2 linked regions of the Homo sapiens genome follow. The protein of the gene in region 2 purifies or fractionates together with the protein of the main gene of each other region. This does not show direct contact. Each region holds a gene or a part of one and is shown on either strand. Other genes may lie near its edges.

Region 1 (3,500 bases), on a different chromosome or scaffold from region 2:
GAGCAGAAAGAATTTCAAAAAGTGGCCTTTGACTTTGCTGCCCGAGAGATGGCTCCAAATATGGCAGAGTGGGACCAGAAGGTAGGCGTTTTTCTTGTGCTTAGACGTTCTAACAACAGATGTCTCAGGCAGACCTTTATCTTTGTCTCCTGATAATGTAATTGTTAAATGTCTCCTCCACTTACCAACTCTTACTGCAAGTGAGAATACCGGTAGTGGATGATTTTTCCTAGAAGGCATCCTGATCATCTTGTACATAACTTTTTTTTTGTTAGTTGAATAAAGATTTGGATATAAAACTAAGGCAGTTCTATAGATAATAAAAAGAAACTTCTTAATGCCAGAACAAGTTTTTACAGGACCCATGTTAACTGATAACCACTGTAAGATGACAAACAGGCATATTAAGAGAATTCATACGCTGTCGCATGTGCAAGCCTCCTAATCCCTCACTGTGCCCTCTAAAAGGAAGGCCGTCTCTGAATCAGCTGCTGATCACCCTGCTCTCTTTTGTACATAGGAGCTGTTCCCAGTGGATGTGATGCGGAAGGCAGCCCAGCTAGGCTTCGGAGGGGTCTACATACAAACAGATGTGGGCGGGTCTGGGCTGTCACGTCTTGATACCTCTGTCATTTTTGAAGCCTTGGCTACAGGCTGCACCAGCACCACAGCCTATATAAGCATCCACAAGTGAGTGCCCAAGCTTGGAAGGCACAATGAAGTGCTCACTCGGGCTGACTGTGAGAGTTCAGATTCGTAGGAAAAAGATTGATCTTTTGAAGCTGAGTGTCCTCAAGGAACTGGACTTAAAAGTACACTCTAGGGGCCGGGCGCAGTGGCTCGTGCCTGTAATCCCAGCACTTTGGGAGGCCAAGGCAGGCAGATCACGAGGTCAGGAGTTTGAGACCAGCCTGGCCAACGTGGTGAAACCCCGTCCCTGCTAAAAATACAAAAAATTAGCCGGGTGTGGTGGCTGGCGCCTGTAGTCCCAGCTACTCGGGAGGCTGAGGCAGGAGGATGGTGTGAACCCGGGAGGCGGAGCTTGCAGTGAGCCGAGATGGACCACTGCACTCCAGCCTGGGCGACAGAGCGAGACTCCATCTCAAAAAAAATAAATAAATAAAATAAGTACACGCTAGGTCTGTTGCTGCCTGTTGGACTTGATTCTGTCATCCTGTGTATTGCTTAGGGAATCAGGTCAGCCAGCTTTCTCAGAAATCTTATTTTGAGCTGGTACCAGGAGACTTCTCCAATAGAGTGATCAGGGTCCTCTCACCCTTTTATTTATTTATTTATTTTTAAGACAGAGTCTCGCTCTGTTGCCCAGGCTAGGGTGCAGTGGCATGACCTCGGCTCACTGCAACCTCCGTCTCCCCGGTTCAAGTGATTCTCCTGCCTCAGCCTCCTGAGTAGCTGGGATTACAGGCACGTGCCACCACACCTGGCTAATTTTTTTTCATATTTAGTAGAGATGGGGTTTCACCATGTTAGTCAGGCTGGTCTCAAACTCCTGACCTTGTGTTCTGCCTGCCTCGGCCTCCCATAGTGCTGGGATTACAGATGTGAGCCACCGCACCCGGCCCCTCTCACCCTTTTCCTCAATCCAAAGATGGAACTGCCAGTGATTTGAGGAAGTAATAGAAACTACTAATAGAAAGCACATATAACTCTGATTTTTAGAGGCTCGTGTAACCTAACTAGAAGTAGTACAAACGTGCTGGTGAGAAGTACCTCAGCCTGGTTATCTCTGGGTAGTCCTTATTCCAGGAATATGTTTTAATCCACCGTTTGCCTTTAAAGAGTCTTCCCAATTGTGACTCTCCCCTTCCCACTCTTCTGCTTTACTCCACTGCCCTGCCCTTTGTTCTCTTTCCCCTTCTCCCCCATTTTTTTTTCTTTTCCATCTTTATTTCTGTCATTGTCTTTTCTTCTTGGTGTACCTATCAGCATGTGTGCCTGGATGATTGATAGCTTCGGAAATGAGGAACAGAGGCACAAATTTTGCCCACCGCTCTGTACCATGGAGAAGTTTGCTTCCTACTGCCTCACTGAACCAGGTGAATTTGCCACACTGCACTGAGATATAGCAGGGAGAGATGCTTCCTGCTCAGATGGCATTACCGAGCACTCCTTCCAGCCTCTTGACATGTCGAGCCACTGTTTATCTAGCTGTTTGGTTGAGGAGTAATAGAGTCCTGTGACCTGATGTCACAAGGACCAAGAAGCCTATCTGGTGTGTTGGGAGGTAGGCAGTGGCCTGACTGGTATGAGCAGTTTCCACCAAGTACAGAGAGTTCCTTTGGCCACTTGGGTTTTGCAGTGACACACTCTGAGCAGGGTCTGTTTAGAGAAGATTTCCTAGAAGATAGAATTGTGCTGGGCTCCCTCGACCTCACTGACTTTCTCACCTTCTCTCTGCTGCCTTTTGATCCCTCCTCAGGAAGTGGGAGTGATGCTGCCTCTCTTCTGACCTCCGCTAAGAAACAGGGAGATCATTACATCCTCAATGGCTCCAAGGTACTAGCGTGCGTCCTCCCAGAGCACTTTGGAGATTGTTCCCAGCTTCCTCCTGACATCCTCTGGTTCCTTCACATCCGCGGGTTAATACTCCCATAGGATTTTTATGTGTTGGGAAGAGAACCTCTGACCCATTTCTCTTTCTTTATTCTCACTGTTTGTATCTCTCCTAATCTGATTCCAGATCATTTCGTTGACTTTTGTCTATCCTTTTTATACTCTCTTGGACTGCCTCTCTGATCTGCAGTCACTGCAGCGACCTTTTACCTCACCTCAGTCTCTGTGCCATTGGACCTTATTGTCAGTCTCTGTGCCATTGGACCTTATTGTCAGTCTCTGTGCCATTGGACCTTATTGTCAGTCTCTGTGCCATTGGACCTTATTGTCAGTCTCTGTGCCATTGGACCTTATTGTCAGTCTCTGTGCCATTGGACCTTATTGTCAGGAGGACCCAGTGGTGTTCCCAGACGCTGTGAGAACTCAAGCATTCCCTGGTCCTTTTGCACCCCTTTTACCCCCACAGGCCTTCATCAGTGGTGCTGGTGAGTCAGACATCTATGTGGTCATGTGCCGAACAGGAGGACCAGGCCCCAAGGGCATCTCATGCATAGTTGTTGAGAAGGGGACCCCTGGCCTCAGCTTTGGCAAGAAGGAGAAAAAGGTGAGTGGCTGTTGGACAGGAAACAATTCAGGTTATGAGACTCTGCCACCTGCCAGCCCAACTCCTGCTCTATTTCAGAAAACAGGTTTGCATACTTGCTAACCTACCTTTGAAGCAGTTGCTTCTATTAGGATTTTCAACAGGAGCATATGAAATACAACAGGGCATTATTAAACACTAGGCCTCTGGGGAAAGTGACAATGTTTGCCAGTAAATTCTTCAAGCCACCTGTGAGTGTTCTGACCTCTCCTGCCTCTGCTTTTGGCCTGTGTTCCTTATCCAGCTGCTTACGTTGGTGCACTTTGTTGCTCCAGGAAGAGAC
Region 2 (4,241 bases):
AAATCCTATCAATGGTTTGCCAAGAGTCATGAAAGGAGGAAGAGGAGAAATCACCAAGGCTTCCAGAAGAAAGCAAGGTTGGAGCTGAACCTGAGGCATAGGCAGGATGCTACAGGCAGAGCTGGGGGTCAGAAGCAAAGATCAGAGTGAACCCATGTGGCAAATATTGGTGGAAGAAAACCAGAACAAAGCAGCCCTGAAACCAGCAAGCACAGCCACCAAGATGCCCTCTTCCCCAGGACATTGACAAGTTATAGTAGCATGCACTGGTGCTGGGGGCAGAAAATGTCCATAGACACCAAGTAATGCTATTCTATTTGGCAAATAAAATGATTCATTCCCACCCTCAACCGATAGGACTATGTGGGTGTTTTGTTTTGTTTCTAATAAGAGGCCAATTTCTGAGTGACTTTTGCTTAAGCAAATGTCAAGTTGCTGATAGACCATCCCTTTCGGGGAGGATAGAAACCCGACCCAAAGGCTCCTTTGTCCCTAAAGACCTTTCAATCAGAGGGATGGGGAAGGAGGTTGGGAGCAGCAGGGAGGAAATATCCTAATGCTACTTGTCATTTAGTCCAGAAATTTAGCGACCTGAACCTGGCAGGAAATTATGTATTTTAAGAAAAAAAAAACATGATACACTCATGTTCATAGCAGCATAATTCGCAACAACCAAAAGCACCCCAAATGTCCATCAACGAATGAATGGATAAACCAAATGTGGTATATCCATATACTGGAATATTATTCAGCCTTGAAAAGGAAGAAACTTTGATACATGCTACAACATGGATAAACCTTGACGACAATATGCTAAGTGAAAGAAGCCAGTCACTAAAAGACAAGTGCTGTATGATTCTACTTATATGAGGGACCTAGAGTAGAACAAATTCATAGAGACAGAACAGAAGAGTGAATTCCAGGAACTTGGGTCGGGGGGAGTGGGGAGTTGTTTAATGGGTGGAGCTTCAGGGTTGCAAGTTGAAAAGAGTTCTGGAGATGGGTTGCACAACAATGTGAATTTAATTTAAATCAATTTAATGTGCACACTAATGCATATAACATTACTGAACAGTACTCTAAACATAAGACGGTAAATTTTATGTTATGAATATGTGATCACAGTTAAAAAAAAATATGAGGGAGGTTGTTTTTGAGTAGACAGTTGCTGGAGGAAGGCACGTGAGTTGCAGCCTGACCAGTGCGACCAGTCCTCCTTCAACAGCCCCGCTTGCCTTGAAAAGGCGCCCTTACTCCGCTCAGGGGGCCTGTCCCGCGCGGCTGGCACAGGCGCTCACAATAACCTCCTAAAGCGGTGCCAGCCGCACCTCCGCGCGGCCCCGGCACAAGCAGCCAATGAACACGCGGCTGCGCCCGGCCTCGCGCCTCCATTGGCTGCGCCCCGCCACCCGCTGCCCCGCAGGTTCCCAAGCCGGGTTTAAAGGGGTAGGGCGCGGGCCAGGGCCCCACCATCGTTTCCCCGCGCGCAGGTCCGCGGGGAGGGGCGGCCTGCCGACCGGCCCACCCCAGGGCGTTCCTGAAGGGCGTCCTCGGCCGCCCCCACCGCCTCCCAGATGTACTATGCGGTTTCCCAGGCGCGCGTGAACGCGGTCCCCGGGACCATGCTGCGGCCACAGCGGCCCGGAGACTTGCAGCTCGGGGCCTCCCTCTACGAGCTGGTGGGCTACAGGCAGCCGCCCTCCTCCTCCTCCTCCTCCACCTCCTCCACCTCCTCCACTTCCTCCTCCTCCACGACGGCCCCCCTCCTCCCCAAGGCTGCGCGCGAGAAGCCGGAGGCGCCGGCCGAGCCTCCAGGCCCCGGGCCCGGGTCAGGCGCGCACCCGGGCGGCAGCGCCCGGCCGGACGCCAAGGAGGAGCAGCAGCAGCAGCTGCGGCGCAAGATCAACAGCCGCGAGCGGAAGCGCATGCAGGACCTGAACCTGGCCATGGACGCCCTGCGCGAGGTCATCCTGCCCTACTCAGCGGCGCACTGCCAGGGCGCGCCCGGCCGCAAGCTCTCCAAGATAGCCACGCTGCTGCTCGCCCGCAACTACATCCTACTGCTGGGCAGCTCGCTGCAGGAGCTGCGCCGCGCGCTGGGCGAGGGCGCCGGGCCCGCCGCGCCGCGCCTGCTGCTGGCCGGGCTGCCCCTGCTCGCCGCCGCGCCCGGCTCCGTGCTGCTGGCGCCCGGCGCCGTAGGACCCCCCGACGCGCTGCGCCCCGCCAAGTACCTGTCGCTGGCGCTGGACGAGCCGCCGTGCGGCCAGTTCGCTCTCCCCGGCGGCGGCGCAGGCGGCCCCGGCCTCTGCACCTGCGCCGTGTGCAAGTTCCCGCACCTGGTCCCGGCCAGCCTGGGCCTGGCCGCCGTGCAGGCGCAATTCTCCAAGTGAGGGCGGGCCTGGGCCTGGGGCGCGACCTCGGCCCGGCCTCCCTTCGCTCAGCTTCTCCGCGCCCCTGCTCCCTGCGTCTGGGAGAGCGAGGCCGAGCAAGGAAAGCATTTCGAACCTTCCAGTCCAGAGGAAGGGACTGTCGGGCACCCCCTTCCCCGCCCCCACCCCTGGGACGTTAAAGTGACCAGAGCGGATGTTCGATGGCGCCTCGGGGCAGTTTGGGGTTCTGGGTCGGTTCCAGCGGCTTTAGGCAGAAAGTGCTCGCTCTCACCCAGCACATCTCTCTCCTTGTCCCTGGAGTTGCGCGCTTCGCGGGGCCGATGTAGAACTTAGGGCGCCTTGCCGTGGTTGGCGCGCCCCGGGTGCAGCGAGAGGCCATCCCCGAGCGCTACCTCCCCGGAGCGGAGCACGCCGGCTCCCAGTACTAGGGGCTGCGCTCGAGCAGTGGCGGGGGCGGAGGGGTGGTTCTTTTCCTTCTCCTCCGCCAGAGGCCACGGGCGCCCTTGTTCCCGCCGGCCAGGTCCTATCAAAGGAGGCTGCCGGAACTCAAGAGGCAGAAAAAGACCAGTTAGGCGGTGCAGACGGTCTGGGACGTGGCAGACGGACGGACCCTCGGCGGACAGGTGGTCGGCGTCGGGGTGCGGTGGGTAGGGGCGAGGACAACGCAGGGTGCGCTGGGTTGGGACGTGGGTCCACTTTTGTAGACCAGCTGTTTGGAGAGCTGTATTTAAGACTCGCGTATCCAGTGTTTTGTCGCAGAGAGTTTTCGCTCTTAAATCCTGGGGGTTTCTTAGAAAGCAACTTAGAACTCGAGATTCACCTTTCGTTTCCCTTTCCCCAAAAGTAGCGTAACCAACATTTAAGCTTGCTTAAAAACGAAAACCAACCGCCTTGCATCCAGTGTTCCCGATTTACTAAAATAGGTAACCAGGCGTCTCACAGTCGCCGTCCTGTCAAGAGCGCTAATGAACGTTCTCATTAACACGCAGGAGTACCGGGAGCCCTGAACCGCCCGCTGCTCGGCGGATCCCAGCTGCGGTGGCGACGGCGGGAAGGCGCTTTCCGCTGTTCCTCAGCGGGCCGGGCCCTTGACCAGCGCGGCCCGCAGGTCTTCCTTCTCGCCGTCTTGCAGTTGAAGAGCTACATACGTAGTCAGTTTCGATTTGTTACAGACGTTAACAAATTCCTTTACCCAAGGTTATGCTATGACCTTTCCGCAGTTTACTTTGATTTTCTATGTTTAAGGTTTTGGTTGTTGGTAGTAGCCGAATTTAACTGGCACTTTATTTTACTTCTAACCTTGTTTCCTGACGGTGTACAGAATCAACAAAATAAAACATTTAAAGTCTGATTTTTTACATTTTTTGTCTGATTTGTTTGGTAATAAAAAAGTCCTTGTATCCTAGTGGATTTAGAACCTTGGGGTGAAGGTAGGTAAATGACCGGGGTCCCAGGTTTTAAAATGTGACTTCCTGATTTGTAAAATAATCCAATGAACAGGCAACTGTAGTTCAAGTTCAGGCATTCGTGGGAAATATGAGGATTATAGGTAAGTGGGTGGGTGGGATAGAGAATGGGATAGAGAAGGGAGAGAGGCAATTCCAGGAATTCATTCTTTGCCAAGCTTCAGGCATAGGTCTTTTTTAACTACAACTTCATCCCCTGGAAAATGGGTTAAGCAATACCTTTATCATAAAATTGTAGCTCAACATCCTTCCAGGATATCCACCTTTTCTATATCCTTGGACAGAAGCTTAATACCACACAAGCATGAGCTTCCCGCTGCTGCACCCACCTACCCCTTATCATTTAAATCAGGTTGGAATTGTCTTCACCTAAGAGGTGAAGAAA

What was found. Proteins that work in one complex are often made in the same cells at the same time.
Region 1: the proteins of OLIG1 (region 2) and ACAD8 purify together in Homo sapiens (affinity purification with mass spectrometry; one large-scale study listed by BioGRID and IntAct). This does not show direct contact.

What each region holds. Positions count from the first base shown.
Region 1 is NC_000011.10:134,256,568-134,260,067, forward strand, and holds part of ACAD8 (isobutyryl-CoA dehydrogenase, mitochondrial), read left to right. Parts: coding exon 1-81; intron 82-520; coding exon 521-690; intron 691-1,947; coding exon 1,948-2,057; intron 2,058-2,440; coding exon 2,441-2,517; intron 2,518-3,040; coding exon 3,041-3,178; intron 3,179-3,461; coding exon of another isoform or gene 3,462-3,500.
Region 2 is NC_000021.9:33,068,673-33,072,913, forward strand, and holds OLIG1 (oligodendrocyte transcription factor 1), read left to right. Parts: upstream 1-1,468; 5' UTR 1,469-1,574; coding exon 1,575-2,390; 3' UTR 2,391-3,741; downstream 3,742-4,241. UniProt on the Homo sapiens protein: Promotes formation and maturation of oligodendrocytes, especially within the brain. Cooperates with OLIG2 to establish the pMN domain of the embryonic neural tube.